Linked DNA regions of Homo sapiens. The protein of the gene in region 1 purifies or fractionates together with the protein of each later gene. This does not show direct contact. Each region holds a gene or a part of one and is shown in the gene's direction. Other genes may lie near its edges.

Region 1 (4,235 bases):
TAATTCTCCTACCTCCCACTTTCATCATGGCCTGGAGCTCCAGGTTTGAAGGAGGATTCTTAGCCGCCTCTGAATGTTGCTGCCACAGCACAGCCCACCCCAGCCTTTGGCCCACGCCACAGCTCCACCTCCCTTTCTCTTCCCCACCCTGCTCTGTATCACACGTGCATGTGGGTGGGTGACCTGCCCAAAGGTTTGAGCTCTCTCTACCTGCTCCCGTCTCTGCTATCAGGACTCTTGCCAGCGCTTCACCCAGTCTCAGGCTGCATAGGGCAGCGGTGCTGTGTGCCCACATGGGGAGGAGGCCATTTGGGCCCCAGAAGTGGAGAGTCTCGGGATCTGGGGCACGCAGAGTGTGGTGGAGAAGCAGGGTGCACGGGCTCCATGTTGGTATGTTCCTGTGGACTCTGTACCCTGCAGGGAGGGGTGCGGCTGTAGGTGAGCTAGAGCCCGACCCTCTCAACTCTGGGTCAGGGTGGCTGGTCCCCACTGCTGTGTGGACATGCAAGTGAGGGAGTCTCTGGGTCAGCTGGAATCATGAAGACGAGAGTTCAGGGAGGGTGGGAGTGGTGGAGCCTCAGCAGAGAAGTTGACGGTCATTGATGTTGAGGAAGTAGATTGTGTGGAGGGAGGAGAATGGCATGGTGTTTGCGCTCCCCACCAGCCTCACTTACACTTGTGGACACTGCGGCCGGTGTCCTGAGGACGTGTGTTGGGAATTCAGCCACGGGGAATGGAGGTCCCTTGGTTCATATAGTCACAGGCTCTGTATTCTAACCCCAGCTTTGTAATTTTCCAGCTGTGCAACCCTGGGCAGTGGCTTAGCATCTCTGAGCTTGCCTCCAGATCCGGATCTGTATGATGGGGTTATTAATGCTTCATAAAGTAGGTGTGAGGAGGGATTGAGGTACTATTGGGAGAAACTTTGTAACTAAAAGGCAATTGTATCATTTGCATTATTACCAGTGACATGAGACATAGTCACACAAAAATTGAAATGTCATTTGTTTTAAAACCAGAAATTGCCCAACTTAGGGCCCTCCTGTCTCTCACTGGGTGCCCTGCAGGGGACCAAGAGCCAGAGCAAGACTGAGAACCTGGGGCAGAAGCGCAGGGAGGAAGGAGGTGGGGCCTGCTTACCAACCAGGCCTCGGCCCCTTCCCCTTTCAATCCCAGGCCCCTGCATGGCAGGGAGAGGCCAGTTCCACCATGGCAGGTTCTTTCTAGGCTGGTGTGCAGGGTGGGGGCCTCCAAGGAGCAGGGGCATGGGGAAAGGGGCTGCAGGCGCTGGGCCTAGGAAGAGAGGCTCTTATCTTGTGGGCAGGAAGTGTGAGGTGTTGAGCAGCTAGGGAACCCTGGGGAGGCGGCGGGGAGCAGGAGGGGTGTGTGTTGTGGTGAGGAGGAGCGGAAGTCGGAAGCTCCAGCCGTCACAGCCACATTCACTGGGCAAGCCGACTGTGAGCCAGGAAGTGCTCTTGGGGAGCCCAGGCCAAGCCATCCATTCTTGGGTCCTTTGGAGGTGAGCTAAGTGGGTCTGCCTAGGTTGGGGCTGGTGGAACCTGTGGGAGCAGGGAATGTGGAGAGTCACATGTGGGTCCTTGTGGCAGGGGCTGGGGCAGGTGGGCAGGGGAGAGGCGAGGGCTCTGGCAGTGCCGTGTGCACCTGCCATGAGCCTGGGCTAGGCTAGGCCCCTCCTTCCCCCTTCCTGCTCTGTGTCCCGTCCCCCTCCTCCCTCAGCCTACCCCTCCTCATCTGACCCTTCTCTGATTCCCTGCCCTGGCCCCACGGACCTCTGTTGTTTCCCTTCCCTGGCTCCCCGCAGAGCCTCTGGAGGTCTGCAATAGTGAAGGGTGAAGGAAGCTCCTTGCTAATCCTCTTGTGAGTGTCACTGCGTCCCCAGTGACTGCTCTGGCTGAGTACCCAGTGGGGGCTTTTGTGGCCAAAGGTCCCAAGTGATTCTCGACCCTAGACTCTGGAGAGAGGGAGTCTGGAAGGCCTGGGTTTGGGGTGGGGGTGGCTCTGGGTGTGGTTGCTGCAGGAGCTCAGAGTCAACTTGGCCATCAGGGGGCTCCCAGCTTCATCTTGCCTTCCAGGACCATCCTGGAGAAGCTCGAGGAGAGGTAAGGGGACCCTCCTTACTGGTTTAGCTCTGGCTTAGGCCTGTTGTCCTGATGGGCAACAGGAACCACTGAACTCTCAAAGTGTGCCTGTGTAGGAAACTAAGGCCCACTGTAGTCATTATTGTTATAGTGAAGGTAGCTGCATGGAGGGAAAGTCCCCTGACACTGCCATTCCCCCCTTATTCCAGGGCCTAAAATTCCACAGTTGAAGTCACTCCTCTGCTAGAATGCAGGGAAGGGTGGCCTGTCATTAGCTGATGATAAATACTCCTCCGTTCATTGGACCTTGGACCAGCTTTAAAAAGTGGTCCCCAAGCAGGCCTGTCTCCCAGCTGCCTAGGACTCTAGAGCATCCCGTGGCCCCCTCCTCCTACAGACAAGGAACCGCCTAGCATGGGGATCAGAACACAGGCTGCTGAGCTCTTTGTTGGGGAAGGGGGAGAGACCCACAGAAGGGGTGAGGGATGTGGGGTGAGAGGACCCAGGGAGGAGAGGCCCAGCCTGGCCCCAGCCCCCTAGGGGTCTTTGTCCTCCCCAGGCAGCAGCTGTACTGGGTCCCCTTTGTCATTCTGTCCCTACCCCCGTGATCTCTCCCCTGGATACTCTCTGCCTACCTCAGACCGCCATCCTCTGCTCCCTTCCTGAGCCTCTGCTGGCCTCACCACAGGCCTTCAGTAGCACTGTCTTCTCTCTCTCTCTCTCTCTCTGTGTGTGTGTGTGTGCGTGCAAATTTGCATGATGGCTCTTTCTGTGTGGGCAGGATGTGGGGCCTTCTCGAGTCATTTCTCTCACGGTGCTTCAGACCCCAGGTTCAGACAGAGGCCTCTGTCCTGCAGCTCCAGGCCAGGGAGTTCCACTCATGGTTCCTGCCTGCAGCAACATCTGTAATTCGGCAGCTTCTCGGGCTGCAGAGGGACAGGACAGGTCACCTCCTAAGTCCTTGGACCGGCCAGAAGCCTTCATACCTTTTCCATAGGAGGGAAAACATTTCCAGGGTAAAAGGAGGGAGCGTTTGCTTGCTGAGTCTGGAAGCTCAAAAAGGGAAACAGAGACAGGCACCCTCCGGATGAAGGTTCAGGGCTGACTCCTTGAGGAGGCTGAGAGCTGAGCCTGACCAGGAGGGCTATTTGTTTGTTTTTGTTAATTTTGGCTTCTCTAAATGGACAGCAAAACAACAAAATTAAACTGAGCAGGACACGGTATTTCCTGAGCACCCACCAAGGGCCAGGCCCAGCACTCAGACCCATTCCAACTTTACAACAAACCTGTGAAGTATAGCTTTATTGGGTCTTGGTTCCTTATTTTACAGAAAAGGAACCAGGTGGAGTTTTTCACCCAGAGCCACATGGCTTGTCAGCTGTAGAGTTAGGATGGGATTCTGCTCTGCATTCTTCACTATGACCCTGAAGTGGGCAAAGGAGGGTGGTCAGTGCAGGGCACCCAAGGCCATCACCTTCCTACTCAGGGCAGGCTCATACCCCAGCCTCTGTGCCCGGTCTCCCCGTTCTTCAGCCAGGGTACAAGGCTGCAATGCCAGGCTGAGGGTGAAAAACAAACTCACTGTTAGAAAGCACCGTCCGGGTGCCAGGTGTCAGCTGGGTTCCTTCCTGCCCCCTTGGGTCAAAAAGAAATTGCCTTGAAGCCGGGGGTGGGGCAGGTGGGAGGGACTCTGCCTTCTAGTCCCTCAGCCATTGCTTTCTGTGTGTTTCACCTCCCACAAGAGGGACATAAGGCTTAGCCCTTGCAGTATTCTCCATGAGAAACATACACCCCCTCCCCACCGTGGTGAAGATTCTCTGAAATGTAGTCAGCTGTGCTCAAGAAGAGTGGCTGGTTGGCAGCAGAGTGGAGCAGTGCTCTCTCTTCCCCACCTCGGCTCCCTCCCCTCTGAACCCTCCTTAAACTTTCAGAGCCACCTCAGAGCTCAGAAAAACTGAAGGGCCACTTTAATGTAGAGGTAACAGAACTCAACTGATGTGACAGGTGGCGATTCCTTTGCTGCGAATTCCTTTCCTTCTGCTTTCGTTCTGGTTGGGATAACAGACAGGAGATTTCAAGAGAGATTTTGCTAAACACCAGGGGTGGAAAAACACAAGTAAACCAAGAAAATTTTAG
Region 2 (3,500 bases), on another chromosome or scaffold:
AAACCATAAAGTTATTTAATTTTATTACTTTAAGACTGAGGAGGAAGCAAAAAAGTGTGATTTGCGTCAGCTGCAGAGCCTTTTGGGGTTCTGAAGGAAGGGGAGAATTAATCTTCTGTGTATTTCATTGAGATCTATTTAACCTCTTATTTCTAAGCAAGCCTTGTAAGAGGCTTTTACCTTTTTTTCTTTTCAATTCTCCTCTTTTTCTTCTCTTTCTCCCAGGTAAGCATCACAGTGATTCATGAGTTCGGTGTGTGAGAGCCTTTAACCTTGGGAACTGGACCTTTGTCTTTCCCATTTTAAGTCCTGCAAGTGTCTAAATGTTTTCTTTCAGAGTGTGACAAAGGCAGCATTCACCCTGAGCTTATTGTTGCTTTTAAAGGAGCTCCCAAAAAATTTTGGAAAATTTTAAACTACAACTTAAAACAGTAGTGAGACCAGGCACAGAGGCTCACACCTGTAATCCCAACATTTTGGGAGGTGAAAGCAGGAGGATCACTTGAGGCCAGGAGTTTGAGACAAGCCTAGGCAACATAGTGAGATTCTATGTCTATTTTTAAAAATAGTTTTTAAGTTAGCTGGCCATGATGGCTAACAACAACACGTGCATACCTCCCCCCGATAGTTTCACACCTATAGTCCCAGCTCCTCAAGAGGCTGACACAGGAGGATCGCTTAAGCCCAAGAATTCGAGGCTGCAATGGACTATGATAGTGCAGCTGCAGTCTAGTCTGAATGACAGCGTGAGACCCTGCCTCATAAGGAAGGAAGGAAGGATGGAAGGAAGGAAGGAAGGGAGGGAGGGAGGGAGGGAGGGAGACTTTTGTTTTAAATTCCATTTATCCAGATAGTTTAAAACAGACAGACAAACACATGTATCTGTCTGATCAACAAAAAAGTAGGTCAGGCATTTCCAGGAACCTCACATTTATGAAACTATTATTATTGCCTTAGTGATTACAGCAAAGGGTGGAGAGTCTGCCAGGGTCAAGCCGTGGTCAGAGAAAGTCACTTTGTCATGGAACTATTTTAACTGAGACTGCCTTAGGAAGCCCCAGAAACCACTGCTTGGTCCCCATGGGGCTGACTTCATTAAGAGTGTATCTACTTTTAGATCATATTCAGCAACACGTGCATACCTCCCCACCAAAAATAATTGCAAAAGCATAACTTTTTAAGAGAAATAAAAATCAATGTATATATTTTTTAAATAGAATTTTTAAAGGTAAATTATATTAAAGTGTTTTTCATTGGTTCTAATCAAGGAGGGAAGGCAAATGTTTTTCTTTTAGTGAACAATATTCTTTAAAACTCTTAAACTGGGAGCAGAGGAACGTGAAGAATTCTTTCAGAAGGGCTTCATGTCACCTCTTCAACGAATCTTTTCTTGGCAGAATTATCAACAAGTAGCAGCAGCCATGAGTGCTACTAAGTGTATATTGAATATCACTCTCCTGCGTGCGGAGAATCTCGCCTCAAACAAAATGGACAAAGACTTTCCCTTCCTAGAGCCTGTGTTATAGCTGGAAATAGCTCATAAACTAGTCATCAAACAAAAGATATGAATTTCAAATCATGATAATAACTAGAAGAAAAAGAAAAAATGAAAGGATAGTGAGTGACTTGGAATGGAAAGCCCAGCATTAAGGAGGAGGGTCGTGGCCCTGCCTGAGTGATGAGAAGGCTTCAGGCTGAGGTGAGTAGTGTTTGCACATGGGGACGAGCTGATGCCCAAGCAAAACTAACTGAAAGTAATTGGGGAGCTGTGTGTGGTGATGCACATCTGAAGATCCAGCTTCTCGGGAAGCTGAGGCAGGAGGATCGCTTGAGGGCAGGAGTTTGAGGCTGTATTGTGCCTGTGAATAGCAACTGGAGTCCAACCTTGGCAATGTAGCAAGATGTAAGAGTGAGAGAGAGAGAGAGAAGAGAGAAGACAGGAAGGAGGAGAAGAGAAGAAGGAGAAGGAGAAGAGGAGAGGAGAAGAGAAGAGAGAAAGGAAGAACAAGAAGGAGAAGAAAGAGAAGGAAAGAACAAGAAGTAGTGGAGAGTGGAGTGAGCAAGGGGGAGTGCGGCAGACACAAGGAGGAAAGGAGGAAGGTATGGGCTGTGGACCACAGGAAGGAGGTTTGAAACAGGAATGTGTGAAAAGAATCCTATTTTCACTTTGGCAGCTATGCAGAGCCTAGATTCTAGAGTTAATAAAGTCAAGAGACTGTGAGGAGGCTGCAGCAGTCTAAGACAACATTGATTTATGACTTGCTCTGGAAGTCAGGCTGTGAGGATAGAGAGAAATGGAAGACTGATGGTCTAATAATGAAGTCACTAGGATCTCACCATACCTTAGCTCTGTAGTCCAGTGCAGTAGCTTCTTGTATAATATTGTTGGGTTTTTTCTGTTTGTTTTGTTGTTGTTTTTTTTAACTGAGTCTTGCTCTATCACCCAGGCTGGAGTGCAGTGGTGCAATCTCAGCTCACTGCAACCTCCACCTTCCAGGTTCAAGCGATTCCCCTGCCTCAGCCTCCTGAGTAGCTGGGATTACAGGCACCCACCACCATGCCTGGCTAATTTTTGTATTTTTAGTAGAGACAGGGTTTCACCATATTGACCAGGCTGGTCTCGAACTCCTGACCCCAAGTGATTTGCCCGCCTTGGCTTCCCAAAGTACTGGGATTGCAGGCATGAGCCACCACACCTGGCCTTGTATAATATTCTTTACAAGAACGTTCATTTTTAACCACATATGGTTAAGTTTAAATTAATTAAATGTGAAAATTCAATTCCTCCTTCACACTTTTTTAAAAAATAGCTACTCTTTATAGTATCACTAAAGTTGGACACATGCATATCCCATGACCCAGCAATTCCATTCCTAGCATTCCCCTCCTGTAAGAAACATGTGCATGGCCAGGCGAGGTGGCTCATGCCTGTAATCCCAGCACTTTTTGGGAGGCTGATGGGGGAGGATCACTTGAGACCAGGAGTTTGAGACCAGCCTGGGCAACATGGCGAAACCTCATCTCTAAAAAAGTACAAAAATTAGCCAGGCATGGTGGGGCATGCCCGTAGTCCCAGCTATGTGGGAGGCTAAGGTGGGAGGTTGACACTACAGTGAGTCGTGATGGTGCCACTGCATTCTAGCCTGGGTGTCTGGAGTGAGATCTTGCCTCAAAAAGGAAAAAAGAAAAAGAAAAAGGCCAGGCATGGTGGCTCACGCCTGTAATCCCAACACTTTGGGAGGCCGAGGTGGGCGGATCTCTTGAGGCCAGGAGTTGGAGACCAGCCTGGGCAACATGGCAAAACCCCATCTCTACCAAAAATACAAAAATGAGCTGGGCATGGTGGTGCACGCCTGTATTCCCAGCTACTCAGAAGGCGGAGGAACAAGAAGCTCTTGAACTTGGGAGGTGGAGGCGGAGGCTGCAGCGAGCCAGGATTGCACCACTGCACGATAACCTCCCCAGAGCAATGGCTGCTGCTTCTCTCCACCCTCCCAATC

The links. Proteins that work in one complex are often made in the same cells at the same time.
Region 2: the proteins of PSD4 (region 1) and GLB1 purify together in Homo sapiens (affinity purification with mass spectrometry; one large-scale study listed by BioGRID and IntAct). This does not show direct contact.

What each region holds. Positions count from the first base shown.
Region 1 is NC_000002.12:113,172,536-113,176,770, forward strand, and holds the start of PSD4 (PH and SEC7 domain-containing protein 4), read left to right. Parts: upstream 1-1,435; 5' UTR 1,436-1,519; intron 1,520-2,734; exon of another isoform or gene 2,735-3,233; intron 3,234-4,235. UniProt on the Homo sapiens protein: Guanine nucleotide exchange factor for ARF6 and ARL14/ARF7. Through ARL14 activation, controls the movement of MHC class II-containing vesicles along the actin cytoskeleton in dendritic cells. Involved in membrane recycling.
Region 2 is NC_000003.12:32,999,647-33,003,146, reverse strand, and holds part of GLB1 (beta-galactosidase isoform a preproprotein), read left to right. Parts: intron 1-3,500.